7 linked regions of the Homo sapiens genome follow. The gene in region 7 interacts genetically with the main gene of each other region. Each region holds a gene or a part of one and is shown on either strand. Other genes may lie near its edges.

Evidence for each region.
Region 1: of ATG10 (region 7) and WDR3, changing one suppresses a phenotype caused by changing the other (phenotypic suppression), as found in Homo sapiens cells (one large-scale study listed by BioGRID).
Region 2: of ATG10 (region 7) and WDR12, changing one suppresses a phenotype caused by changing the other (phenotypic suppression), as found in Homo sapiens cells (one large-scale study listed by BioGRID).
Region 3: of ATG10 (region 7) and KANSL3, changing one enhances a phenotype caused by changing the other (phenotypic enhancement), as found in Homo sapiens cells (one large-scale study listed by BioGRID).
Region 4: of ATG10 (region 7) and RPP14, changing one suppresses a phenotype caused by changing the other (phenotypic suppression), as found in Homo sapiens cells (one large-scale study listed by BioGRID).
Region 5: of ATG10 (region 7) and NRBF2, changing one enhances a phenotype caused by changing the other (phenotypic enhancement), as found in Homo sapiens cells (one large-scale study listed by BioGRID).
Region 6: of ATG10 (region 7) and NPC1, changing one enhances a phenotype caused by changing the other (phenotypic enhancement), as found in Homo sapiens cells (one large-scale study listed by BioGRID).

What each region holds. Positions count from the first base shown.
Region 1 is NC_000001.11:117,927,811-117,932,890, forward strand, and holds the start of WDR3 (WD repeat-containing protein 3), read left to right. Parts: upstream 1-1,928; 5' UTR 1,929-1,972; intron 1,973-5,080. UniProt on the Homo sapiens protein: Part of the small subunit (SSU) processome, first precursor of the small eukaryotic ribosomal subunit.
Region 2 is NC_000002.12:202,876,554-202,880,850, forward strand, and holds part of WDR12 (ribosome biogenesis protein WDR12), read right to left. Parts: 3' UTR 1-4,297.
Region 3 is NC_000002.12:96,628,139-96,632,479, forward strand, and holds part of KANSL3 (KAT8 regulatory NSL complex subunit 3), read right to left. Parts: intron 3,406-4,341; exon of another isoform or gene 3,345-3,405; coding exon 3,174-3,344; intron 1-3,173. UniProt on the Homo sapiens protein: Non-catalytic component of the NSL histone acetyltransferase complex, a multiprotein complex that mediates histone H4 acetylation at 'Lys-5'- and 'Lys-8' (H4K5ac and H4K8ac) at transcription start sites and promotes transcription initiation.
Region 4 is NC_000003.12:58,316,008-58,319,072, reverse strand, and holds part of RPP14 (ribonuclease P protein subunit p14), read right to left. Parts: intron 2,559-3,065; coding exon 2,482-2,558; intron 2,159-2,481; coding exon 2,080-2,158; intron 1,634-2,079; coding exon 1,577-1,633; 3' UTR 1,460-1,576; coding exon of another isoform or gene 953-1,459; 3' UTR 1-952. Other genes in the region: HTD2 (hydroxyacyl-thioester dehydratase type 2, mitochondrial), read right to left, coding at 953-1,459. UniProt on the Homo sapiens protein: Component of ribonuclease P, a ribonucleoprotein complex that generates mature tRNA molecules by cleaving their 5'-ends.
Region 5 is NC_000010.11:63,149,659-63,153,097, reverse strand, and holds part of NRBF2 (nuclear receptor-binding factor 2), read right to left. Parts: intron 2,871-3,439; exon of another isoform or gene 2,742-2,870; intron 949-2,741; coding exon 908-948; intron 1-907. UniProt on the Homo sapiens protein: May modulate transcriptional activation by target nuclear receptors. Can act as transcriptional activator (in vitro). Involved in starvation-induced autophagy probably by its association with PI3K complex I (PI3KC3-C1).
Region 6 is NC_000018.10:23,555,072-23,559,412, forward strand, and holds part of NPC1 (NPC intracellular cholesterol transporter 1 precursor), read right to left. Parts: intron 2,120-4,341; coding exon 2,046-2,119; intron 1,594-2,045; coding exon of another isoform or gene 1,543-1,593; coding exon 1,172-1,542; intron 1-1,171. UniProt on the Homo sapiens protein: Intracellular cholesterol transporter which acts in concert with NPC2 and plays an important role in the egress of cholesterol from the endosomal/lysosomal compartment.
Region 7 is NC_000005.10:81,978,125-81,982,465, reverse strand, and holds part of ATG10 (ubiquitin-like-conjugating enzyme ATG10), read right to left. Parts: intron 4,138-4,341; exon of another isoform or gene 3,617-4,137; intron 2,967-3,616; exon of another isoform or gene 2,788-2,966; intron 1,559-2,787; exon of another isoform or gene 1,049-1,558; intron 1-1,048. UniProt on the Homo sapiens protein: E2-like enzyme involved in autophagy. Acts as an E2-like enzyme that catalyzes the conjugation of ATG12 to ATG5. ATG12 conjugation to ATG5 is required for autophagy. Likely serves as an ATG5-recognition molecule. Not involved in ATG12 conjugation to ATG3.

The sequences.
Region 1 (5,080 bases), on a different chromosome or scaffold from region 7:
AGCACCCAAAGAACATATCCTAACAGTAAATTAGTAGTACCCCTTCATATTAAATGAACTGCACTATGTTTTAATTGTAAATATTGATATATTAGGCATTTTGAAACTTAAATAAGGAAGTAGAGTTACATCCTTGAAACATTGTATAAGGAATTTTGTAAGATGCATTACCTTACCACTCACAGTTGCTCTGATACCAACTCTTATTAAAATCATTTTTTTCCATCTGTGGTTGTCCCATCCCATAATATTTAATAATATTAAGATAGTTTTTTAAGAAAAGGTAAAATCATGACTCATTCAAATATAAAACCAAACCCGTGTTCAAGATTTTATTTAACTCAAAATGGAACCAGGCAGAGAAGATAAAGAAAATCCCAGAATTAGACACCTTAGAGCAGGAATATTGAAATAAATGTGCAAAAGGAGGCAAAACTTCCACTGAATCTCTGAGAGAATTCGCATGTCTTGACAATAATTATTTAGCATTGATGTCACTTACCTAGTTTACGTAACTGAAAAATAGCTTTTTTAGAATTAGTTATTCCAAGGGGTGTTAAGATAGAATCTAAACTATGTAGTTTTCCATTGAAGCACACACTTCTCCCCATAATAATATAATGCACAGCACCTGTCAGGGATATTAACCATACATACCCACTCAAATGCTCCCTTTCCCACCAAGCTTATTAAAATAATAGTTTGTGGCCACAATTTCTTCCCTTCTCATTTATCCAATACACAGCAATCTTGTTTCAAAACTCCTATGCTGCTACAGCTGTCCACAGTCTCATCATACGCATTCTTTGCTATTGCAATTTTCTTGAATATGGAAGATTAGCTGAACATGCATTAAGCTCAGGAAACTCTAAAGAAAATCAGATAATGTAGACAAAAGTCTAATTTCTAGGCTGGCTGCAGATACCTTGTTCAAGAAGCGCCGGCAGGATCTTCTTTTGTACAGCTATGTTAGCTTTAATTTTGCACAGCTCTAGACATCAGAACTCATTTCTAAACACTTCTATGCAGCTCAAGAATAAAAGTAGCAGAAATGCAAGAGAGAAAAGCTAATTCCCACTTGGTGAAAGAGCACTTAAGTCTCAGTGAGCAAACAAGGAGGAGTCAGCCTTGGTCACTTCCCCCTCAAGCGGCCAGAGAGCGGAAACACAAAGCCAGGCCAGTGTCACTCCAGGGATTGCGGGAACCTAGACAACGCACCATCCTGGGCTCAGCGTCTACCCACCCCTCACCCGAGGTGCTCTCGGTTCCGTAGAATGTCCAGTCCACAGGAACGGCAACACGGACTTGTCTTTGGGACTACAACCAGCAAGAGCTCCCGCCTGCCCCATTTCACCTGCACCCTAGGGCGCCCGCCTCCTTGGCTACAGCACCACTGTTCCTAGTGCCCGCCGACTGCCCACCCTTTCACTTCTCGTAGAGACGGCGTCCCCGACAACGCCTCGGGAAAGAACCTAACCAACATGCGAGGAAGTGGCGCCAGGCTCGTTCTTCAAGAGAAGTGACAGAACTAACCCTCAGCCTGCAATCCTGACCAGGGCCGAGTCCCGAGCGCCTCGGACCGCGCCCCCGGCCCTCTCCGCCCCGCCTTCCCTCCCGGCCTCAGTCCCTCCTCTCACAGCACTCTGGTGGTCCCATCCGGGCGGCGGGCGGCACGGATCAGGCTCCTGGTAGAAGGCGGCCGAGCGACATCTCCGGCGACCCTCAGCAGGAGCGCGCCGAGTACGGCGAGTCAAAGTCCCAGGAGACTGGAGTGACCAGCTGCAAATGCTCTGGGCTGCGAAACACCGGCTTCCGCTCCTGGCCAGAGCTCACCAATCAGCGCCCGGCTTTCTCCGTCATTTCCTCCTAGAAGGCAAAGGGAACCTCTGGCGGAAGAGGCTTCCGGAACGGACCCGGAAGGGGCAGGTCTTGTGGGCGGGTCCAATCGGCTGGGAGCCTCGTGGAGGCTGAGGTGAGTCCTGGAGGTGCGTGGTTGGGGCGGAGAGCATTATCTGCGGCTCCGATTTTGCAGATTCTGGCTGAGGCGTTCGTGATGTCAGCAGCAGCCGAGACGGGCGTGTTAAAGGCCGGTTGCTAGGGCTGGGGGAACTCAGGTAACTACGGGCGTCCCCACAGCAGTACTTGGAAGCCCCTCAGCTACTCGGCGCGGTTGCGGGTGCTGAGCAGAGCTGCCTGACCGTGCGTGTGCACGGGCTGGCCTGAGGATGATATGACCGTGTGTTCGGTGTGTGGAACCCTCCGTCACCCTCCCCTGACCGAAGACTCGTTTAGGAATGTGTGGCAGGTCTGTTGCCACGGTCCAGGCCTTCAGTGCATCTTGGAAACATCGTTTTGGGGGCTGTAGGTTAGGAAGCGGAGATCATGGGGTCTCGGAAGAAGGTTTGGTCGTGAACTGTCAGAAAGGAGGCGAAAGCTGTGCACGTGGAACAAAGTGAACAGTGCAAGTTGTATGGGAGGTAGTTTAAATATCGAGGCGATGAAAAAAGGCTGCTAGAATTGGGCTTACTCGAAAGGAAGTGGGCCTCAGAAGATAATATTAGTTAAAAGAAGTAGAGGAGAACATGGATGTTATTCTAAGTAAAACGAATAATATGAAGAATACAAGGTCGCGGGACGAGGAAGGAAACTAGCCAGCCTGACAGGAAGGTTTATTCGAGAAATACGGGGGTTAGATAGGATGAGTTTTTGGAAACTGGCAAACGATTTAGCCTTTTCAAGGCTTTAGGATAGGGAAAGCTCATTTGAAAAGATTAGTCGGTAGTATTATGACGTTTAAATGAAAAGAGTGAAAAACATGGAGGCGGAGGTGCTAGGTGGAAAATCAGTGCAGTAATCCAGTGATAAAGAGCTGGAACTGAAAGTGCTGGAGAGAAAGGGATCCTGTTTCAGAGTAACAGTCAGGTGGAATTGACTAAAGAGAAAGAGGCAAAGAGAAGCAGTTTAGCATAGTGGTTAAAAGCAGAAATTTTGGAGTTAGACTGGCTGGATTGGGATCTGGCTTTGGCAATTAGCTGCTAAATGACTTTGAGTTAGCAATTTGCCATCTCTGGGTCTGAGTTCCTTGTCTGTAAAATAGAGATAGGAAGAGTGACTTCCCTTGTGGTGTTATTGTGGAGAATTTGTTTATTTATTTTTAGAGACAGAGTCTCACTGTCACCCAGGCTGGAGTGCAGTGGCGTGATCATAGCTCACTGCAACCTCGAACTTCTGGACTCAAGTGATCTTTCTGCCTCAGCCTCCCCGAGTGCGTCACCATGCCTGGTTAATTTTTTAAAAAATGTTTTGTAGAGATAGGTTCTTGCTGTGTTGCCTATGTTGGTCTGAAACTCTTGACTCCTAGGCCTTGGCCTCCCAAAGTGCTGGCATTACAGGCATGAGCCACCATACCAGGTCCTTATGGATAATTTTTTTATGCTCATATTTACAATGTGCTAGAGGCTTTTCTAAGTGCTTTGCATATGTTAGCTCGGTTTCATTAATTGCTGTATGTAATTAAACAATTGCATAATGTTATCAGTTACTATAGCGTAAGCACTCTCTAAATCTTGGCTGCTATAATAATATTTTTTTATTAATAATTCAAAGGTTATTAAATGGTTTTGAGCCTGAAGAGCTGGGAAAATTGTGTCTTAGTGTCAGAAGAAAAGAGAGGGGTACCAGAAGTAAGGTAGGCTTGGTTATAGACATGTTAAATGTGAAACTATAAGGTATTCAAGTGGAGATGTTCAGTAAATATTGGAAACTCTATAATTAGTATTCATGTAGGTGGAAAGGACTGGAAATAGACAGATGGGAGTCCCTGGACCTAGGCATGCTATATGAATTCTCCAAGGAAAACACTGTAGAAGGAGGTGGTAGATGGCCAAAGACAGACAAACATAAGGAACAACTACAGAGTCTGGAGGAATAAGAGGAATTGGGAAAGAATTAATCAAATGGCCTAGGCTAAGAGCATTATCACCATGTTAATATTATCTTTCCTTGATTTTAAATTGGCTTTATGTTGGTTCCTGTGAGAGAAGCAATGAGGCCAGTAAGTGATTATTACCAGAAAATATTATCAGAGAGTTGAGATTGAATTTTTTTTGTGTTAGACTAAAACAGCATTTGATAATTAGAAAGACCCTGTAGAGTTAAGCCAACCAACCAAAGAAACAAAAAACAATAGCAAAAAGAAACAGCTCCTCATAAAAGACTGTAACTTCTTTATTTTTGTGTGTTTTAAGTTGCATGGGTGTTTTTTGGGGATACTTTTTACTCTTCCATGTAAAGAACAGATGGGACTGATTTGTTATCTCCTTCATTCACCTCTTGTCCCTTTTATAAATAACCAGTGGATTATGGATTTTCAGTGAATTTAATAAAAGTGCAGAAATTATGGCATCTTTCCAAAAATAGTGTGCCAAGTTGCTCAACCATTTTCTATGCCAAGGGTAAGTGGCTGCTCTGATTTTGAAATGAAGGACAGACTTTCATGTACTAGTAGTTCTCAAAGTGTGGTCCAAGAACTGCAATAGCAGCATCACTTGGAAACTTGTTAGAAATGAAAAATTCTAGGCCCTACCTCAGACTTATGAAATCAGAAACAGGTGCTGGGAGAAGAGATGAGATGGTGTTTTCTAGCAATGTTTTCATAAGCCCTCCAGGTGATTTGGATGTATACTAGAGTTAGAGAACCACTGTACAAGAAGGTAAGTACCATGAGGTTAGGGATTTTGCCTTGTTAATAGTGTATTTCCAGTGTCTAGAATGGTGCCTGTCTAATTGGTAGGTTTTCAATAGATATTCATTGAAAAATATGTTCAGTCTCAGACTGCCAATCTCTGTGTAAAAGCTTTGATGCTGGTTTAATGGGCAGAAGTAAATCAGTTTAGCTGCATTGAGCCTATAATGTCAGATATGCATGAGGTGGGCATGACAACGTGACTAATTTGGAACTTGAGGAATGAGGGATTATATTGAGTCAACACTGAATAAAAAATGATGTCCAGGTATTTTAGGTCAATGATTCATTTAGAGTAAATAAAGATTAAGAAGTCACAAGTTACATGCTTTTAAT
Region 2 (4,297 bases), on a different chromosome or scaffold from region 7:
AAGATATTATTGGAATATCCCTTGCATATAGTCTTAAAATGTCATATTTTTTCCTTTAAGAATAGGAGCCATAGTAATATCTATTAAAAAATCTGTATTTTTGGCCAGGCACAGTGGCATGCCTATAATCCGAGCACTTAGGGAGGCTGAGGCATGAGGACTGCCTGAGGCCAAGAGTTCATAACCAGCCTGGGCAACACAGCAAGACTGTCTCCACAAAAAAATTTTAAAATCAGCCAGATGTGGTGACATGCGCCTGTGGTCCTAGTTAGGAGGATGAGGTGGGAGGATCCCTTGAGTCCGGGAGTTAGAGGCTGCAGTGAGCTATAATCGGGCCGCTGCACTCTAGCTTGGGCAACATAGTGAGACCCTGTCTCTAAAAAATGAACAAAAATAAAAACTAGTATCTTTCAAAAAATTTAATATTTTCCTTATATTTGTTATATATAGTAAACTGTTACCTTTTTTTCAAAACTACGATACATCAAAAGAATTTTAGACTGTGTGAACAGATTTCAATGTTATTATCAGAAATTCCCAGATGGTATATATATATATATATTTTTTTTTTTGCAGGGTTGCTTGTTCCATTATATGCATTTTATATCAATTTAAACTTTTGTTTGTTCTTTCTCCAATAATATACTAGGAAGCATTCTGATATATTATTATGCATTGTTGACAACAGTTCCAAAATGGTAATTCCAAATTCAAAGGAAAAGAAAATATTGATCATCTTCTCATAGAAAAGCTATGTTTTTCTACAAAGGCCCCACTATGCCTGGCCAAGTAATTTCTTAAAACTTTATTTGGGCTGGGTGCGGTGGCTCATGCCTGTAATCTCAGCACTTTGGGAGGTCCAGGTGGGCAGACAGCTTGAGCCCAGGAGTTCAAGACCAGCATGGGCTACATGGCGAAACCCTCTCTCTACAAAAAAAGTAATAATAAAAATAAATTAAAAAATAAAAAATAAAAAATTGACTGGGTGTGGTCCCAGCTACTTGGAAGGCTGAGGTGAGAGGCCAGCTTGAGCCCAGAAGGTGGAGGTTGCAGTAAGCCAAGATTACACCATTGTACTCCAGTATGGGTGACATAGTGAGACCCTGTCTTGACAAAAAAACAAAAAAACCAACCTTTGATAAGAGAGCAAGTATCAACATTTTAAAGAACTGCACTACTATGGCAAGACAGCATAACTAGTACCGGTCAGCAGGTTCTGAGCACTGCATTGTCAGGTTCCTAGCTTTTCCCCAACCACGGGAAAGCAGCACCACTCATTTATCCAAGTGATTCTTGGGAATATATAAGTCCATGTAAAGCAGGCATCTCTGGTGTTCTGGTAGAGGAACTGGGACCATTGAAAGGTCTCATGGCTTTTGAGGGAAAGGGTGTGGAGCAATATCAGAGGACTGAATAGTCTAGGCATGTATTGACCTCTCATATTCCTTCTGTTCAGGGAGTAAGATCTAACCACTTGAGTTAACCAAGGAAAGGAGTTTGGCAGGGATTGATCAGAGACAATACTTGTCCAAGAGACTTGGTCACTTACATTATATCTATCTCAAGGAAGAATGCCTGAACTATGAATGTATTCTGCTGTGGAACCAGGATTGGGAATAGGTGGGGACCAGTTCTGGATGCCATTTTATTCTTTGTCTATGCATCTGATATATAGGCTTCTTTATCTTTAACCATCTAGTTTATACAGACTACATTCGGTCAGCCTAGGTTGGGTGAGTTAAGAAAGACATTTTAAATAACTGCCCTTAAGGATCATTTGAAGACCATCCAAAACAGGACTAGGAATTCATCTTTGTCCTCTCAAAGTTAGAAGATTTCCAGAGACTACAAATACAATAAAATTTATACCAATCAGCACAAAATGAGAAAAAGAAGGATTCTGTGCATGAATTTTCTGGCCACCTTTATTCACTATTTGGCATTAAAATATACTTTAAGAAATGGTAACTGGAGCTCTAGCTCTTGGTCTATATGAAAATGAGGACCACATACCAGGGATGGAGGGAGCCTAGGATCCTAAAGAATGTGGAACAAAACCTACATCAGCCCTGGACTGCCTCTGGTTTTCTACAGAGAACTAAACTCCTAACTGGTTCAATACACTGTTTAGCTCTCAACTGCAGCCAAGTTTAGATATTGTTTCGCAGACTTCTGCAACAGGAACATCATTTGAGATGTAATACCATCTAATAATGAGACCAAACATATTTCCCAAATATTACTAAAAGGTTGTGAATGCTCTACTTAAGGAGTATCAATCCATTAATAATGGAAATAACATTTAAAAAATACATTTACTTTAAATATTTTTATATAACACATGCATAAAGATAAATGCTAATGATATCATAAAATCTGTAGAATGTTTAATACTGATGAAAGGTTTTGTCTAAAAAATTTATTCTAATCTACACATGAGGAAAGATTAGGGTTACAGTGAAAACTGTATGCAATGCAATTTTTTATTTTTTTTTGAGACAGAGTCTTGCTCTGTTGCCCAGGCTGAAATGCAGTGGCACAATCTCAGCTCACTGCAACCTCTGCCTCTCGGGTTCAAGCAATTTGCCTGCCTCAGCCTCCGGAGTAGCTGGGACTACAGGCACATGCTGCCACGCCCAGCTAATTTTTTGTATTTTATTAGAGACGAGGTTTCACTGTGTTGCCCAGGCTGGTTTCGAACTCCTGAGCTCAGGCAATCCGCCCGCCTCAGCCTCCCAAAGTGCTGGGATTACAGGCGTGAGCCACCGTGCCCAACCAACTGTATGCAATTTCTAAAGGATCTGACATATATTTAATATAAAGTGCCTTCCTTAAAATATCTTGATGAATTCTTCAAAAATTGGCAATCTACTTGTCTTTATTTTGAGATAGAGTCTGGCTCTGCTGCCCAGGCTGGAGCACAGTGGTATGATCTCAGCTCACTGCAACCTCCACCTCCTGGGTTCAACCAATTCTCCTGCCTCAGCCTCCCAAGTACTTGGGACCACAGGAGTGTGCCACCACACCCGGCTAATTTGTTTTGGATTTTTTTTTTTTTAGTAGAGACAAAGTTTCACCATGTTGGTCAGGCTGGTCTCGAACCCCTGACCTCAGGTGAGCCGCCTGCCTTGGCCACCCAAAATGCTGGGATTACAAGCATGAGCCACCGTGCCCTGCCGAATCAATATTTTGTTATCGTTGTTGTTGAGACAGAGTCTTGCACTGTCACCCAGGCTGGAGTGCAGTGGCACAATCTCAGCTCACTACAACCCCTGCCTCCCGGGTTCAAGCAATTCTCCTGCCTTAGCCTCCCAAGTAGTTGGGATTACAGGCGGTCGCCACCATGCCCAGCTAATTTTTGTAGTTTTAGCAGAGACAGGGTTTTGACATGTTGGCCAGGGTGGTCTCAAACTCCTGACCTCAGGTGATCCACCTGCCTCGGCCTCCCAATGTGCTGGGATTACAGGTGTGAGCCACCATGCCCAGCCTACATTTTTTTTAATGTTCTGAGTACCCTCACAGCCTAATTTTCTTGAACATTTATTCTGCCAAAAGGAACTGAATTTCTAACTTTTTCTCTATTACAATTTTCATTAATCTTTTTGAATGCTTTTTTAAAATAGCTAACTTAAAAAAATCTAAGTCTCTAACAGAAATAAAAATCTCAACAATCAATTACTGGATTTCCAATATAACCTTTTACAGCATTTCAAAAACAAATCTTAATTCGGCCAGGCACAGTGGCTCACTTTGGGAGGCTGAGGTGGGCAGATCACCTGAGGTCAGGAGTTCAAGACCAGCCTGGCCAACATGGCAAAACCCCGTCTCTACTAAAAATACAAAAATTAGCAGGACATCGTGATGTGTGCCTGTAATCCCAGCTACTTGGGAGGTTGAGACAGGAGAATCGATTGAACCTAGGAAGCGGAGGTTGCAGTGAGTTGAGATTGCGCCACTGCACTCCAGCCTAGGCAACAGAGCAAGACTCCATCTCAAAAAAAAAAAAAACAAATAAAAATAAAAAAGCAAATCTGAATTCAAACCAATACCTTTAAAGAGAAATGTAAAACTCAGTTTAATTTCAAGTTTGTATAGAGAATGTATGCCACAGTTTGTATTTTATAAACACAACCTATCTTATTATAAATACAAAATAAGAAAAAGTGATACGTTAGCTGTTATGAAGGGTGAAAACATTATATAAACTTCAAAAGGCTGCTTTCTGCATCTGCATCTATGTAATTTCATGGTTCTCTACCAATTTCATTTACAGAAATAATCTCTATAGTCAAATTAT
Region 3 (4,341 bases), on a different chromosome or scaffold from region 7:
GCAGGAGAAGGTGCACACTGGCCTATTCCGTGGACTCATCTTGCCTAGAGGAAAGATGTGTACATCCAGCTATTCTGCTGTGCCTCCTGTGTAGACTCTCCACTCATCTATTCACTTCTGAAATAAAATGGTTTTCCAGACTTTCCTGCTGAGAACAGACACTCTGGCCAGGCCACCCCAGTGTCTCTTATGCTTTGCAGTTATATCTCTCCTTATAAATTAAGAAACTCAGCCAAGTGCAGTGGCTCACACCTATAATCCTAGCACTTTGGGAGGCAAAGGTGGGCAGACCACTTGAGCCAGGAGTTTGAGACCAGCCTAGGCAACATGGTGAAACCCAATCTCTACAAAAACTACAAAAATTAAGAAATGGTGACGTACTCCTGTAGTCCCAGCTACTTGGGAGGTTAAGGTTCCCACCCGGGAGAATCACCTGAGTCCTGGAGGTCAAGGCTTGTAGTGAGCTGAGATCGTGCCACTGCACTGCAGTCTGGGTGACAGAGTGAGACCCTGTCTCAAAAAAAAGAAAAAAGAAACAAACTGGTATTTATAGTATTATTAAGTCTCTAATGACTTTGATAAGTATGAATTGTCCACAAAAACCTCTTAATCATAACCATGGATAAACTGACAAAAAAAAAAAAAATCACACAGTTCTCCTATGTACTTTCTGAAATTGCAAAGGACAAGGTAGTAGAAAATACCACAAAGGGATACATAACCATACCAGGCCACCTTGTTCAGCCACCACTAACTGGTCTTAATCTCTTCTTACTGCCCTTAATTAAGGCAGAGGGTATGGTAGTTGAGAACACTGGGTTCTGGAGTCAGGCTGCTTGGTTTGAACAAAATCCTTCTCCATCACTTCCTAATTAAGGTTTCTTAAACACCCTGAGCTCAGTTTCTTCATCCTGTTGAGCAGAGATGAAGGGGGGATATACCTCCAAGAGTCATTGGGAGGATTAAGAGACAATGCATTTGAAGAGACATTGATACAATGTCTGGCACCTAGAAAGCACTCAACAAACGGTAGCTCCTTTTTGTTATTACCATCGTCGTTATTTTTTATTATTAACTGTAAAAATAGTGATAAATCCTTTTGCTGAATATACTGACTCTAGCAATATTCCAGTAGTTGATCTTCATTCGTAGCAGTTTTCTTCTTTATCTGAAGCTCAAAAGAGCTTTTTTTTCTTTTTTTGAGATGGTGTTTCACTCTTGGTGCCCAGACTGGAGTGCAATGGCACGATCTCGGCTCACCACAACCTCCGCCTCCCAGGTTCAAGTGATTCTCCTGCCTCAGCCTCCCGAGTAGCTGGGATTACAGGCATGCGCCACCACACCCAGCTAATTTTGTATTTTTAGCAGAGACAGAGTTTCTCCATGTTGGTCAGGCTGGTCTTGAACTCCCGACCTCAGGTGATCCACCCGCCTCAACCTCCCAAAGTACTGGGATTACAGGCGTGAGAAAAGAGCTTCTTAAGGCACTAAATTAATTCCAATGCAAGACCCCAACCAACTTCTTCACAAGCTTTTTCAACCAAGGTGCAGAACTGCTCCTCCCTCAACAGCTGCTGTTTTGATCACACAAGCACACCTGTTCAATCTCATTCCCAACTTCCAACCAGCTTCAGAAGTCATGTCAATCACCTCAAACTTTCTACCCCTCTTTCTCTCTATTATAAAATAAGGGTTCTCCAAAATTATGGAAAGTTACCACCTACCAACTCCTGATATAAGAAGTAACATTTCCTTATATATATAGTAGATATATGGATACACAGACAAAAAGCCATCAACAAAATATAAGTTGAAACCACAATGAGATGCCACTTTACACGCAGTAGAATGGTTATAATTTTTTTAAAAAAGAAGAAAATCAGTAAGTGTTGGCAAGGATATGGAGAAACTAGAACTCTCATACACTGCTGGTAGGAATGTAAAATGGTACAGCCACTTTGGAAAACAGTCTGGCAATTCCTCAAAGGTTAAATACAGAGTTATCATATGACCCAACAAGTCCACTCCCAGGTATATAACTAAGAGAATTAAAAACTTAGATCCACACAAAAACTTGTATGCAAATGTTCATAATAGCATTATTCACAATTGCCAAAAAATGAAAACAATCTAAATATCTATCAACTGATTAATGAATAAATAAAATGTGGGCTATCCATACAATGTAATGTCATTTGGCAATAAAAAGCATGAAGTGCTGATACACGCAACCACATGGATAAACCTTGAAAACATCATGCTGGGTGAAAGAAGCCAGTAGGAAAAGACCACATATTGCATGATTCCATTTATATGAAATGTCCAGAATAGGCAAATCTATAAAGACAAAAGTCAATTAGTGCTTCCTAGGGACCAGAGAAGCTGGGAGGAAACGGGAAGTAACTGTTTATGGGTAAGAGGTTTCTTTTTAGGATGATGAAAATGTTTATCAAATTGATAGTGGTGATGAATATACAACTCTGACTATACTAAAAACCAATGACTGTACATATTAAATAGCTGAATTGTATGGTATGTAAATAATATCCCCAAAAAGCTGTTATGTAATTAGGTAAATGTTTACCAAATGAACAGGGACAAATAACCAGGAGAGGAGTGCTGAGTCCCCTGGGGGCAGTAGAAAGCTTGGGAACAAAACTAGCCAGTATACTCGTGAAAATAGGCTTCAGTGTGCCCTCCATAGCCTGCAAATCTATTTTTAAAAGCCACTCAAACATCTGTTAGCTTTTCATGTGACTTCACAACTTCCATCATCCTAGTTATAAACCATTTAAACACAATATCTTACAAATGTACATTTCATTTTTTTGCAGTTTGGGTAACCCCTATATCATAACTTATACAACAGAAGCTACTACAGAGCTAGTCATATGTATCAAATTTAATTCACTTATTTATTCAACAAACATTATATGCCTACTGTGTGCCAGACAACGTCCTAGTGTGAAGTATGCAAAGATGGCTGAGATGTAAGCCCTACTCTCAAGGAGCTCACACACAGCATGGTGAACTGAGAGTTATAATGTGAGACTTTGGAGAACACTCTGACTTGTGTTGCTGCAAATGAAATAAGGTCCTAATAAGTGTTATTTCAATGAAGATGATACAAAATAATTACAGGGCAGTGATCATCCTCCTGATGAGCAGCCTACCTGTTGACATGCTCCTCCCAGTCCTCTGGTGGAGGAGGGGCATCTGCATCAGTCCTGGCAAAGATGACATGCCGTTCACACTCATTCATCACGCTGCGTGCCTTCTGATTGTCATAGAGTGGCATAGGCGTTGATGTGACCGTCTCCACATCTATTGGGACGTCTGATTCACTGTAAACAGGTGAGGAAATAGGACCGGGCCACACATACTTCACAGGTATTTAACAATCATCTGGTTGACAAAAAATGTATCTTTAATACAGTCAGCTTTAAATTACGCATAAGCACATTATATTCACAAGAAAATTTTGATCCAAAGTCATCTTTCCCACACTTGTCTAGATCTCTGCCCTCTCAGACATGATGGTATGTACTGGAAGAACACAAAGTCATTTTTTCAATGAGTCTATATAAAAAATGATAAACATCTATTTTTTTTTTAAGATAAATATGGGCCAGGTGCACTGGCTCACACCTGTAATACCACCACTTTGGGAAGCCGAGGCAGGTGGATTGCTTGAACTCAGGAGTTCAAGACCAGCCTGGGCAACATGAGGAAACCCTGTCTCTACCAAAAATACAAAAATTAGCTGGGCATGTGGCACACACCTGTGATCCCAGCTACTAAGGAGGCTAAGGTGGGAGGACTGCTGGAACCCGGGAAGTCAAGGCTGCAGTGAGCCATGATTGCATCACTGCACTCCAGCCTGGGTGACAGAGCAAGACCTGGTCTCAAAAATAAATAAATAAATGACAAATACAGCCAGACACAGTGATTCACACCTGTAATCCCAGCACTTGGGAGGCTGAAGCAGGAGGATCACTTAAGCCCAGGAGTGAGCTGGTCTCAAAAAATAAATAAATAAATGACAAATATAGCCAGGCACAGTGATTCATACTTGTAATCCCAGTACTTTGGAAGGCTGAAGGAGGATTGTTTAAGCCCAGAAGTTCAAGACCAGTTTGGCAATATGGCAAAACCCCGTCTCTAAAACAAACACAAAAATTAGCCAGGCATGGTGGTATGCGCCTGCAGTCCCAGAAACTGAAGTGGGAGGATGGCTTGCTTGAGCCCAGGAGGTTGAGGCTACAGTCAGCTCTGATCATGCCACTGCACTCCAGTCTGGGTGACACGGCAAGACCCAGTCTCAAAAAAAAGGACAATATA
Region 4 (3,065 bases), on a different chromosome or scaffold from region 7:
GCTATAGGTAGGGATTTGTTATCCAAATGCAAATCTATCTAGGTCTGAATTTCTAAAAGTAGAATCTTTTTTTTTTTTTTGAGGTGGAGTTTTGCTCTGTCACCCAGGCTGAAGTGCAGTGGTGTGATTTCAGCTCACTGCAACCTCCCAGGTTCAAGAGATTCTCCTGCCTCAGCCTCCCAAGTAGCTGGGATTACAGGTGCCCGCCACCATGCCCGGTTAGTTTTTGTATTTTTAGTAGAGATGGGGTTTCACATGTTGGCCAGGCTGGTCTTGAACTCCTGACCTCAAGTGATTCGCCTGCCTCAGCCTCCCAAAATGCTGGGATTACAGGCGTGAGCTGCCACGCCTGATTTAAAAGTAGAGTCTTTAAATAACCTTCCCAATACTTCTTTCTTGAGACAGGGTCTCGCTCTGTCACTCAGGCTACAGTGCAGTGGTGCAATCTCAGTTTCTCACCATAACCTCCAGCTCTCAGGCCCAAGCAATTCTCCCACCTCAGCCTCCCAAGCAACTGGGACTACAGGGCCAAGTCACCAAGCACAGCTAGTTGCACTTTTTTTTTTTTTTTTTTTTTGGTAGAGATGGGGTTTCACCATGTTGGCCAGGCTGGTCTTGGACTCCTGACCTCAAGTGATCCGCCTGCCGCAGCCTCCCAAAGTGCCAGGATTACAGGCATGAGCCACCGGGCCCAGCCTACTTCTTGAATTAAAAAACAAAAAACAAACAAAAAACCCAGGCAGATAATGAAATCCTGCATACACTCAAGTCTGCATGAAGCATAAGGCCAAACTGGAAAGTGGGCATTTGAACAACCCTCTTCCTGCTCCCTTCCCCTAACTAAGATGGGCTTCTGGGCCTATCAACCATTCTTTGGTAAAGAGCAGCAATTCCCCATAGGCTCTTTAACAACAGCATTGGTGTTTGAGGTTGCATCTTTAAAACATCTATTTCAGGATTTGGAAGCTTCTGGAACCATAACTTTAACCCAGCCTTCCATAACAGTCTTTTTACTTTCTATTACAGAACATGACACTGCAATAATAGCAATGAACCGCTTCAGCTTTTTCACTTCTGCAGAAGCTAAAACAACTTCTCCAATATATAAAGGGGCTGGAAAGCTAATTTCCTGGGAAAGAAATACACAGCCTGGCCCTGGCATTTTAGTTCCTAGGAGAGCTGAGATAAGTCCGTTGATCAAAACTCCATGTACAATTGTATTTCCAAACTTGGTGTGTTTTGCAAAGTCTTCATTCAAATGCAAAGGATTGACATCCCCTGTTAATTCTGAGAAGGTAGCCACATCAGTCTGTGTGAAGGCCCTCCTAAGTTCAGCGCGGTCTCCAACTTTGATGTGCATATGCTGAAAGTGCTGCAGGGTCAGCACTGGCAGGTTCAGACAGACTGTCCTCCGAAGCCCACCCCACCAAAGGTGATGGCTGGAAATTAGTGGGAACATCTTCAGCACCCTCAAATTTCATCAAGAGCTTTTAGCCTGCTTCAGTCTTCAAACATGCAGGCACCAAAAAATAAATATGAGAGTGGATGAACGTTTCCAAAATGGAAGACTATTCATTCAATCCAATACTAGTTCCCTACTATTACCAGATAATGCAAGAAGAAATGGAGAAACCTAGAAGAGAAAGAAAAAGGTTAAGGCATTGGGAGAAACCACACTGAAGCACAGGGCAATGGGGAAACATGCCCAGTTTTACAGGATAAACAAAGCTGATGCAGGAGCATTTTACAGAGCATCCTGAGAGGAAGCCTTCGATAACAAGTGGTCACATCTCAAAAAGAGCGTACCAATATATAACACACAAGGCATTAAGTGTTAAATAAAAAAAGTAAGCCTTAACCACAGGGTTGCAAGTTTTATCCCAAAACATCTCCCATAGATTTTAAAATCTAAGTGCTCTGTCTCACATTTTTGGAAACAATCAAGTCCTTTATTTTCCCCTACTTAGATCATTTTAACCATATTACATTTATGCAAGCACAAAAATGAGTTGTGTATATTAAGAAGCAGTTGACCCATCACTCAGTCTTGTTTGGAATATGTGAGGGAATAGTCTTTACCTGAATCACCCGGAAAGCACATTTTTTGCCTTTATAGGATCCTAACAGGGTCAAAGAGCTCCACAATTTGACAAGACCACTGCAGAAAGATCAAGAAAATACATAGTGTGTCATAGACAGAGAACAAAATGAACTTCAACTAAGGTTTCTAAAATATTCACTTCTGACTTTGCAACTATAACCATCAATGGGAAAACTACAGCTGTAACCAAATCGTAAGTTTTGCCCTCTCTAGAGTACAAGTTTCTGGTGGATGAATGTTCATATTCATCCCAGTTTAAATTCCCAAAAGCTGCTCAGAGTTCACAACAAAAAATTTATTCTCATTCTCAGAAGAGAGCATTTTTGCTCCATCGGTCTCTCTGCCCTGTTATACTAGAAATTTCCCACTCTCTGTCATACCTGCTACATATTCTCAAGATGGCTGACAAGGTCTTCTCTTCATAGGTTAGGATGTCCAAAGGTAAGGCGGCATCAACCTGCATATGGAATAATGCTATTAGCAGGCTATTCTCACCATTATTCTTGAATGCTTGTCAACTTTTGACAACAAATGAGTTTTGAGCTTTTCTCCTCCACATAAGCAGTATTTTATTTAATGGTGCTGGCACTTTAGTTGCCTACTTACAGCTCCCCCTGCCTAGAATGTTCTGCCTACACCTCTTCATATGGCTGATGTCTCTCATCCTTTGAGCCTTCATTTAAATTGTTCCTTGACTGATCTTCAAGATGAGACAAAGTCAGCTTGCTATGTTCTTTCTTGTACAGGACACCATACTTTCTCTTTCATAATTCCCTTTATTCTTGTCACTAATTGTCCAACATGTTTTCCTACTACAAGAACCAAGACATTAGTCCATGTGGCAGAGGCCATGTCTGTTTGTTTGCAGCTATATAAACCCCAGGAACGAGGTTTTCTACCTGACACACAGGTACACACAGGGATATTTTTTTTTAAAATTTTGTATTTAAAAAAATTATAGACT
Region 5 (3,439 bases), on a different chromosome or scaffold from region 7:
CTAGTGGCTTTCCCTGCCACTGATATACCTCACAGAAATGATCTCTTTAACTAATACTTTTATAACAAAAAGTTTTTAAAAAGATATTTTATATATATTTATTTTAGAGACAGGGTCCCTGTTGCTGAGGCTGAAGTGCAATGGCGCAGTCATAGCTCACTGCAGCCTTGGACTCAGGTGTTCAGTGATCCTCTCACCTCAACCTCCCAAGTAGCTAGAACTACAGGCATGTGCCACCACGCCCAGCTAATTTTTTAAGTTTTTGTAGAGATGGGGTCTCACTGTGTTGCCAAGGCTGGTCTCGAACTCCTGGGCTCAAGTGATCCCCCTGCCTTGGCCTCCCAAAGTGCTGGGATTACAGGCATGGGCCACCATGCCCAGTCTTATGAATAAATGTATCTTGAAACACTTGGCAGGGCCTCCCCAAACACAGAAGACAATTTAAAGCAATTGGTGAAACAAATTTAAAAGTGCCTGAACTGCTTAAGAATTCAAGCAAAGACAAGTGGGAGACTGGTCAGATTTAAATTATCTTTGACAAGCAAAGGGTGGTCCAACTAGTTTCCTCTTGGCCAGGCCTGTTTACTGACTGTAAGCTAATGATCAAATAAGAGCTAATGATTAGGAATGGTCCGAAGAGGGCTCTCTAAAAGGTACATCTGGCTGGCAATCTGAGATCTGTGAGTAACCACTAGAAAAAAAGAAGTTTCTGCATTCCATGTCTGGGGCATCGACTGCAGTTCATTTAGTTTTAATTTCCGTTGTGAAGTGCTCTTCCCTTGCCCATTTTATATATTTTTGACTATAGCATTTTGAGAGGGACACAATGCTTTGCTTTACACACAATTCAAGCCTCCACAAGAAAACCTTTCTAACCCTTGTCGCAAATATTGGGAATATGTCTCACCTGCTCTGACTGTGTCAGCTTCATGGCTTCAGAAAGATATGCTGTTAAGAGAAAAAATAGGCATGTTAATATGTGTCTTCATTTTGTAATTAACAGGTAAAAGGAAGAGTTTTAATAATCTTCATATGACAAAGAGAACTGGTCTGATAACTCTGATACAATTGGGGATTTTTTAAAAGAATTCTTAACTTCCCCCAAAAGGATGTCAGTGGCAATAAAATGAAAATATTCCCTACCCTATCTTGAAGGTTTTGTTATTTAAAACTCCTACAGATTTTATAATTCAGAAACTGAAGATGGTCTAATCAGAAAAATAGGTTTAGGAAAGATAAAAATCAAACAAGAACCTATCCAAACCCTATTACTCATCATACTCACAAAAATATCATGAGATTATCAATGACTTTTTATCCGTCTGAATACCTGGAATCTATCATTTTGGACTCCTATAGAATCACTTTTAATGAATTGTCTCTGAGTTAAACCATCAGCCTTATGGTTAAAAGCCCTAAGAACTTGTTGACATATTTACTGCGAGGAAGTTACTGAGGACAGTATAATGTCATTTATGAAGACCTTCAATAAACTTCTCTCTGATCTTAGATCCTCGGTGACTATTTGTTTGAATTTTAATAGCCAATGTAAAAATTATTATCTTTCCTCTTTAGGATGACTGCTAGAAAACTTAAGTCAAGTTCTTAAAAAAATATGCAAGAACTAATGGTACATTTTGTGAACTACACTACTAGTCCTTTCTCATTTTCTCTATGGATGTCCTTATCTATGTATCTTTAATTACATTCGATATTTTATTGTACATTCATCTGTAAGACATTTTATAACCTTTCGGGAACAAGGTTAGGTATAAATAAGTTCTCTATTATCAATGAATTGTCCATAATGAATCTCCATTTTTATCTTGCTTGTTATAAACATTTTTGGCATCTCTCATACCTACATTAAGTTCCTCTTTTGCCCTTTTGCAGATACTACGAGGCATTGCTTTCTGTCCAGTCTTAATCCAAATAATTTAATGCTTTGATGTCATAACTTAAGAGTTCTTGCCTGCTAGGTTCTACCACAGTCTTTAAGATACAATTATATCAGGGGTCCCAAACCCCCAGGCCGGTACTGGTCTATGTCTTGTTAGGAACTGGGCCACACAGACAGCAGGAAGTGAGCAGCAGGCAAGCCAGTGAAGTTTCATCTGTATTTACAGCCACTCCCCATTGCTTGCATTACCGCCTGAGTTCTGCCTCCCATCAGATCAGCAGCGGCATTAGCTTCTCATAGCACAAACCCTACTGCAAACTGCACAAGCAAGGGATCTAGGTTGCACTCTCCTTATGATAATCTAATACCTGATGATCTGTCGCTGTCTCCCATCACCCCTAGATGAGACTGTCTAGCTGCAGGAAAACAAGCTCAGGGCTCCCACTGATTCTACATTATGTTGAGTTGTATAATTATTTATTTCTATTATTACATTGTAAAATATAAAGTGTACAATAAATGTAATGTGCTTGAATCATCCAAAAACCATTTTCCTGACCCCAGGTCTATGGAAAATTGACTTCCACAAAACCAGTCCCTGGCAGCAAAAAGGTTGGGACTGCTGAATTAGATGCTCCCTTTCCAAGAAAAAGAAGAGTTGGAGCCAGGCGCAGTGGCTAGCACTTTGGGAGGCCAAACAGGAGGACTGCCTGAGCCCAGGAGTTCAAGACTAGACTGGGTAACATAGCGGGACCCTGTATCAATTTAAAAAGAATTTAAAAAAAAAAAAGGAAAGAAAAAACAGAGTTGGTTATACAGTCTTTGCTCCAGCTATGCTTACCATAATTACATCCTTCCCACAACCCTTGTCTTTTTTTCCTGTAGTATGTCTGTACAGCTGCATACTATTTCTTTTCCTTTTGTTCATGTTTAAATCTGTGAAGACGGCCGGGTGTGGTGGCTCACACCTGTAATCCTAGCACTTTGGGAGGCTGAGGCTGGTGGATCGCCTGAGGTCGGGAGTTCGAGACCAGCCTGGCCAGCATGGTGAAACCCCGTCTCTACTAAAAAAAAAAAAAAATACAAAAATTAGCTGGGCGTGGTGGCAGGCACCTGTAATCCCAGCTACTAGGGAAGCTGAGGCAGGAGAATCGCTTGAACCCATGAGGTGGAGGTTGCACTGAGCCGAGATCACGCCACTGCACTCCAGCCTGGGTAACAGAGCAAGACTCCGTTTCAAAAAAAAAAAAAAAAATCTGTGGAGACATTCTAACTGCTCTGCTACCGCTCTGATACACTGTAGACACATTTTCTTAGACATCTCTTCCATCTTGCCTGCATATATTTGTCTCCCTGTTTGAACTATAGTTTGCTTTAAATCCACTTTCTTAACAAACAATAGTTTTCACAAAACCAAGCTTTAGCCAACTGAAATGCCACCCTTTGTAGAACCTTGAAATTGTATATGACAAAGGAGGTTACAGAAGGATATCCCAAAGCACAAAGAATTCAACAAGAATCATACTGTCATTTAAAGTA
Region 6 (4,341 bases), on a different chromosome or scaffold from region 7:
GAAGACAAAGAGTATTTGGGGAAAATACTTCCTAAGATGAGGGAGAGAATTAAGATGCAATACAGTAAGAAAACTGGTCAGGCCACAGGCCCACTCTAACAGCAAACTAGTTAGAGGCGTCCACAGAGGCGGCGAGGGGTAGGGGGAACACCATGACCAGAACAGCTATCAACATAGGACACACAACCATCTCCCCTCCACCGTTCTCCAGTGGTGGCCAGCAGGCCAGAGGGGAGAGTGGAGGGGGACTCCTGGTCTCCCTGACCCTCCTCTCAATAGTAACACATAACCTCCTGCCTTGCTCTGCACTACAGCCATTTATATATGTCCCCTTATTTCCTAACAGAGAAGATGATCTTGGAGGTAAATGACTATGCTGTTCACCTTCAGCAACAAGCTGGAAAAAGCAACAGACAGTCACTGGGTAGAGAAAAGATTCAAGTCTTGGGACCATTTTAATGCTTTTCAAGATTGCAGACTTTCTTGTAGACATGAGCAATGTTTAAAGGAAAAACCATGTGATTATACATTCATTAAAAAAGAAGCCGGTACAGTTTATGCACAGGTACAGTTCTCCAAGGCAAGTGTGACAGGGACAATGGGAAGGTTTACATGCCTTTCTAGGAGCAATGGGATGGATCTTGCCCCAAATGCGCCTCTCACCAAAAACAGGCTGGGTGCCCATGTTCAGGCAGTGAGTGATAAGTTCATTCCTACAGGTTGGATCAGGGATGGTAATCTGGCAGCTCCTTCCTCAGCCCCCAGGACAGCAGTAAGGGCTTCATGCCTCTGGGTCCTTGCATATTACTTTCAGTTACCAACAGAAAACATTTCACAAATTCCTAAGGTGACTTCCTAATAAATATATCCTGCCTCAATAGAGAAACGCCACTGAAGTCTTCTTTCTCTGCTCATCTCAATTTCAAGAAAAAGGCAAGGTCTACTATCTGAAGTAAATACAAAAGTGAGCAACAATAAATATTCCATTAAGTTCAACATCATTCACTTTCTTGAAACCTAACTTAAAGGCAGCTTTGCCATTATACGCTAAGATTTTCAAGATATACCATGACATTCAGCCCCAAATCCCCATCTAGCAGTAGTCAACATGTAAAAGCCAGCAAACCACAAGGTCATCTAGAGTGACTTATTTCTTCAAACAGCAGGTTACCTGGTGCAGTATCTGTATGTCAAGCGGAGGTCCAAAGGGTACATCAGCTCCCGAAGGGTATGGCTGGTAAATGTGTTTGTCAGTGAGAGGGGCCCGGATGATGAGCTGCTCCGTCCGGAAGAAAGGCCCAAAGTGCTGGTCAAAGTACTCTTTTTCCAGGCGAGCCTGGCTGCTGGGGGCTGACCAGAGGTCAACTGGATTGGTTGTGACCCGGACAAACACCAGGCCTGACGAACACGCAGTAATGAAGACCAGCGAGAAGAAAATGACACAGCCAGGGTTTCGGACGCAGAAAGACCCCCAGCGTGTGAACAGCCGCCTCAAGCAGCCCTCAAATGCTGCGCTGACAGGGTCACAGCAGGACGCCTCTCCTGGAAGAACGGGAGAGGAAGGGAAGGTGGAGGTTAAGAGCCAAGCCGTTCCTGAAAGTCGGAACAGGGAAAGCATTAGTTGCTATCTCATGGCAGGAATCAAGCCCACCTGGGGACACATATGAGACCCCTGCCCTCAGCTACCTATCTGCTCAGCAAAGCCACCTTTGTTGGCTGCCCTCAATGAGCGCTATTCCCACCCCACAGAGGAGATGCCGACACAGGAGCCTCTGAAGGGTGAGGTTCAACCCTGCCCTGCTATTCCCACTCTTGTCCTGCTGCTTTCGCGCCTCCCCAGCTATGATTAATTACTTGGTTCTGCTGTGCCACCCTGACTAGATGGTAGGGCCACAAAGGCAAGGACCATGTCTGCCTTGGTCGCAGCCGTGTCCTCGGCACTGGCACACCACCTCACCCACTGCTGCAACCCCACTGAGGAAACGAATGCTCTCATGACAGACAGCATCATCTGAACCCTTTTATTCATGGACAAATATGCCTACCTTTGTCACTTGCATTAACAGAAAAAGCTATATTGCTATCGATGGGAGTGTACTCGGAGACAAAATACCGTTTTCTGAAAAACAGAAGTGAAGAAATAGCATTAGTGGACTTCATCACAGTGAGGTTGTTTTTGGGACATTCCTGTAATCCCATGAAATGCTTTCTTCCTCCTCCTGGCCTCCTCCTCCCTAATTACTGCCTTCTTTCCCCTAAGTCCCCTTGCTCTGGGTCCCTCTGCTCACCAGTCTCAGGAGAAAATTTAAGAAGATGTTAAGAGAACAATTAATAAAGGATAATTTCACCTTGTGGCCCTCATTTTATTTAAAACTTTTAGGTCCTTTAAAAACACACTACTGGGCTAGGCGCGGTGGCTCACGCCTGTAAACCCAGCACTTTGGGAGGCCAAGGTGGGCGGGATCACGAGGTCAAGAGATCGAGACCAACCTGGCCAACATGGTGAAACCCTGTCTCTACTAAAAATACAAAAAGGTTAGCTGGGTGTGGTGGCACGTGCCTTGGGAGGCTGAGGCAGGAGAACTGCTTGAACCAGGGAGGCGGTGGTTGCAGTGAGCTGAGATCGCGCCACTGCATTCCAGCCTGGTGACAGAGCAAGACTCCATCTCAAAAAAACAAACAAACAAACAAAAACATGCTACTCTTTCCAGCAGCAATGAGCATACCTAGTGCCCAGATCTTCGTTTCTACATACCATTCTCCAATAAAAGGAACCAGAGCTCCTTGCAGGGCAGGGACAGGGAATATGTAAGATAAAGCTGGGGATGGGAGGTGTATGTAAGAACACAGAAGCCAGCCAGAAGGCACTCCCAATGGCCCAAAGTGGAAAACTTTGAGTAACAAGATAAATGACAGTGTTGGATACAACCCACAGAATTAAAAGTCCATGATGTAAATAACTGAGTAAATAAATGAGGGAGAAGGGATAGCTTTCTGTACAGAAGTCCAGTTAGTAAATGCAGAGGAAGAGAGGGAAAGAGAAAAAAATCACTATCAGGCAAACACCTTAGTTATAACTGTTGCAGACAAGACCCAACAATGAATGCTAAAATCAGTGGTTGAGTTTCAGGAGGAACAAAATATTAGTATAGTCTCAAAGCATCTTCCCCCAAGATATTTATCAATTACGAAGGGAAAAGCAGTAACTTCACAGTGGAGATAGCCAGCAGACATCACCTTGAGCAAGTGATCAAGGTTAACATCACCAGGAAAGAGACGCATCAACATCAGGGATCCCTGACATGATGCACCGAGAAAGACATAACATGACTTCTGTGATGTACTTGTCAAAACACCTTATTTCAATCTCATCATGAGAAAATACCAGATAAAGCCAAATGGAAGGACATGCTACAAAATACCTGACCAGTATCATCAAGAGTGTTAAGGCCAGAAAAGGAAAGACTGAGGAACTTTCTGTCACAGATTAGAGGGGACTCATAAAACACAAAAATGTAATATGGGACCTTGAAACAGGGAAGGGCATTAGAGAAAAAGCTGGTGAAATCTGATTAAGATCTCTGGTTTAGCTAATAATAATGTAATAATAATGGCATGGTCGTGGTTTTGATCATTGTACTATGAGTTTTTTTTTTAATTATTATTATACTTTAAGTTTTAGGGTGCATGTGCACAACGTGCAGGTTTGTTACGTATGTGTACGTGTGCCATGTTGATGTGTTGTACCCATTAACTCGTCATTTAGCATTAGGTATATCTCCTAATGCTATCCCTCCCCCAGGCCCCCACCCCACAACAGTCCCCGGTGTGTGACGTTCCCCTTCCTGTGTCCATGTGTTCTCATTGTTCAATTCCCACCTATGAGTGAGAACATGCGGTGTTTGGTTTTTTGTCCTTGCGATATTTTGCTGAGAATGATGGTTTCCAGTTTCATCCAAGTCCCTACAAAGGACATGAACTCATCATTTTTTATGGCTGCAGAGTATTCCATGGTGTGTATGTGCCACATTTTCTTAATCCAGTCTATCGTTGTTGGACATTTAGGTTGGTTCCAAGTCTTTGCTATTGTGAATAGTGCCGCTATAAACATACGTGTGCATGTGTCTTTATAGCAGCATGATTTATAATCCTTTGGGTATATACCCAGTAATGGGATGGCTGGGTCAAATGGTATTTCTAGTTCTAGATGTACTATGAGTTATGTAAGTTGTATCATCGGGGAAACTGGGTTAAGGATACACATAAATTCTACCATTTTGCAACTTTTTGGTTAAGTCTACAATTATTTCAAAATAAAAAGTAAAAAAAGTACTGTCCTAA
Region 7 (4,341 bases):
GTTTTGTTTTGTTTTTTGGAGACGGAATCGCCCAGGCAGTGGCATGATATCGGTTCACTACAACCTCCACCTCCCGAGTTCAAGCGATTCTCCTGACTCAGCATCCCAAGTAGCTGGGACTACAGGCACACACCACCACACCAGGCTGAATTTTTGTATTTTAGTAGAGATGGGGTTTCACTGTGTTGCCCAGGCTGGTTGCGAACTCCTGAGCTCAGGCAATCCACCCACCACCCCACCTCGGCCTCCCAAAGTACTAGGATTATAGGCGTGAGCCACCACGCCTGGCATAAGTTGTTAATACATCCATTTTGCTTGAGTCTTACTCTGGCTGAAGAGTTGTGTTGTTTTGTTTTTGTTTTTGTTTTGTGACATTCAATCAAAACCTTTTTCTAACTGCTTTAGCAGAGACTAAAGATTGGAAAAATAGAATAATTTTCTGTTTTTCCAAGTGAGGGTAGTCTTTCCAAACTGTAAGTTAGCCCTTAGACTAGAAGGATAGAAGAAGCTTATTCTGCTGCTGTTCAAATATATCTTTCCAGAAAAGCAGCCTTAGTGAATTCTAACACTGTATATAATCATTGTTTAAATGATCCTTTTTAATTGAAAACAATTTTTTCACTACCACTCTCCATACTGTTTAATGTGATTTTTAATCTAATGTGTGTAGAACTAATTCTTTGTTATTGTTTTAGTTGGAGACGTTGATTTGATGAATCTATAAATCAATGTACATCAAAGTCATAATAGGACTAAAACACTATAAGAAATATAACTGAATTTCCCAGAACTTAAGATCATTTACAAAAATGTGATTACCACAGAACATGCGATGCATACATTTAAACATTAAAAATCATTTTTGACTAATAAAGTAGGCAATTTCCTGAATACTTGTCCCTCCTAGCAACAATTCCACATTATTTATAACTCTAAGTGTAGACTCTTTTTTAAAAAACATGCACTATCAGGTAGGAGAGTTAAACATCAACCCACTACTTTTATGGCAATTTGGCTTGAATTGATTCAGATTAATTTAATCACTTACCTAGCAAGGTCCTTAGGCAGTGGTCCTCAAATTTTAGACAGCAAAGAAGCACCCACAGTGCAAATTCAAATGTGGAATCCTAGGCCTTGGCCAGAAAAATAACCTGATTCTGAAGACCCAAAATAATTACTTTTAATTAGCACCTGGGATACTTTCAAAGGGAATCATGCTAAAAGATTAGCATGATCCCTAGACAAAAGATGAATCACTTTGACAGGGCTGGTAAAAGACCTGGATTTCAAGACATTTGGCAGCCTGGGTGGGACACAGAAGGCATGGCCCTGGGCAATCCAATAAAATAGCACAGAGACACATCAGAAGAGAAGTCGTATCAGTCCTAACAACAGATGACCAGCAGGCTCAATTCTCCCTCCTTGCCTTCCCATTGGAATACATATTCCAAATCAAAGTTTAAATGAGAGGCAACACTGTACCTGGCTGGAAATGAGGAATCTCTGTTGGTAGCTGAGGCTTGCTCTGACCTCTCTATCACTAGGTCAGGGGAAAGAGGGTCATTTCACTCTCTCCCATTCCCTTCAGAGAAACAGATCCTGAGTTGCCCCTCCCCTCCTGGTTTCTAGCTCCACTGGTAATTCTCTTTCAAGGCAGTTCTCTCCCAGTAGTGCAGTGTGCATGGCCAGATGTGGAAGGTAAAGCCCTGAGGTGCACTGAGTACTGTGCAGCGAGCGACAGGTAGCTGCAGGAACAGAATGAGCTCTCAGCATAGTACAGTCTCACCACTAACACCCCAAAAAACTAAAAAAAAAAAAACTATAAATTATTTCAAATCACACAAAAACACTCCCCTCATTATAGTTACAGGACCGAAAGATTCAACACTAGGAAAGGAAGACCTCTCCTAAGTATAGAAAATGATCTATCCTTCATAAATTTCGTTGTACCCATTCATCTGCTTTCCAAGCTAACATAAAGAGGAAGATTCCTCCAGCTTCCAAGTGTAGTGAGAGAGACGAAGGAACACTTGGTCACTCTGACCAGTCAACATGCCCCTCTTTTGTCAAGGTAAGTAAACCAAAAACATTAATAACAACACAAGACCTTTAAGAAGCTCTTGCATAAGAAAAGAGGGGAACTACCATAAACAGGAAGAGGGAAAGCTTGCTCCTGTAATGGACTTACACTAGGAATATGGAAATCAAACCGAGGAATTATCTACTCTATGTTCCCAATTTTAAAAAGAAAAAGAGAAAGGGAAAGACCTCTAAAAGCAAGAGATGAGGAAGGAAAAACAGCTGAGATGAAAAAGGAAACTGGATAAGAAAAAACTGGAAGGAAATTCAAACACGTAACAGTAGAGATAAAAATTCTACATTCAAGGCAACAGAGAGATGTATAGAAGCTGGAAAAAAATCACATTCGTGTTTCAGTGTATAAGCACATAAGATCCTCTCCAAACACACAAAAGAAAAAAGACCATGATGAAAATAATGCATATTGTTTGATGGAAGGACAAAGAACACAGGTCCAACCTACAAATAACTGGAATTTCTGAACTACAATCATAAGCAAATGTACAACTGAAAAACTGTTCTAAGATGGAAAAAAAAAAAGATTTAAAATATTTACCTATAAATTGAAAGAATTCACCATGTTTCTAAAAAAAACAAAGCTGCTGGAAAGAAACTTATGCCTAAACATAGCCTACAGGAATATCTTAATTTAAAGACTAGAAAGAAAAAAAGATGCAGGCAAAAAAAAAAAAAAAAAGGTTTACCTACAATTAGCAAAAATCAGGGTAGCCTCTGCCATCTTCACCCACTGCAACAAATGCCAGATGATAGAGCAATGTCTGCAATGTCTGGGGATTTGATTTACACTTCGTATCTTAGCATCTATAACAGATAGGCAAACAGTAAACATTTTTTTTTTGAGACGGAGTGTCGCTCTGTTGCCCAGGCTGGAGTGCAGCGGTGCTATCTCGGCTCACTGCAAGCTCCGCCTCCCGAGTTCACGCCATTCTCCTGCCTCAGCCTCCCGAGTAGCTAGGACTACAGGGGCCCGCCACCACGCCCAGCTAATTTTTTGTATTTTTTAGTAGAGACAGGGTTTCACCGTGTTAGCCAGGATGGTCTCGATCTCCTGACCTCGTGATCCGTCCATCTCGGCCTCTGGAAGTGCTGGGATTACAGGTGTGAGCCACCGTGCCCAGCCAGTAAACATTTTTTTTTAAGTTGTAAATGAATAAAAGAAAAATTCAGACCAGGCACCGTGGCTCACGCCTGTAATCCCAGCACTTTGGGAAGCTGAGACAGGAGAATCACCTGAGGTCAGGAGTTCAAGACCAGCCTGGCAAACATGGCAAAATCCCTTCTCTACTAAAAATACAAAAATTAGCCAGGTGCAGTGATGTGCACCTGTAGTCCCAGCTACTCCAGAGGCTGAGGCAGGAGAATCACTTAAACCCAGGAGGCGAAAGTTGCAGTGAGCTAAGATTGTGCCACTGCACTCCAGCCTGGGCGACAAAGCGAGACTCCATCTTAAAAAAAAAAAGAAAAATTCAAAAATTTGAATGGACTTATTCTATACACCTCTTCTCATTTATAGTACCTTTCTTCAACTTTCAGGCCTGTTCACTTCTTGGACCTTTCTTACACAAACTGATGTACACTTTGCAAGGCCGAGGTAGGAGGATCACTTGAGGCTAGGAATTCAAGGTTGCAGTGAGCTATGACCGTGACACTGCCCTTTAGCCTGGGAGACAGCAAGATCCTGTCTCTAAAACAAACAAACAACAACAAAAAAAACCACAGATCTATATGACATCCAATCTTTCTGATACCAGTATCATTACTTTTATCAAAAGATAATTTTTTAATAAAACTCTGCAAGCACATAAGAAAAAATGTTCCACCACTGATGACAATTTGAGCTGATCCACAGCTCAAACTCTCTTGCTGCCTTTGAACAGTGGGTAGTAGGACTAGTACAACAAACTCTAGTCAGCACATATGCCAAGTATCCAGAATTAGGAAATAAGGAGATAATGGGGTATCCTTGGCCAAAAGTATCCAAAAAATAAGAAGAGACAGAAAGGAGCAGTGGCTCATGCCTGTAATCCCAGCATTTTGGGAGGCCAAGGTGGATGGATCACCTGAGGTCAGGAGTTTGAGACCAGCCTGACCAACATGGTGAAACCCCATCTCTACTAAAAATACTAAAATTAGCTGGGCGTGGTGGCGGGCACATGTAATCCCAGCTACTTGGGAGGCTGAGGCAGGAGAATTGCATGAACCTGGGAGGCAGAGGTTGCAATGAGCTGAGATCATGCCATT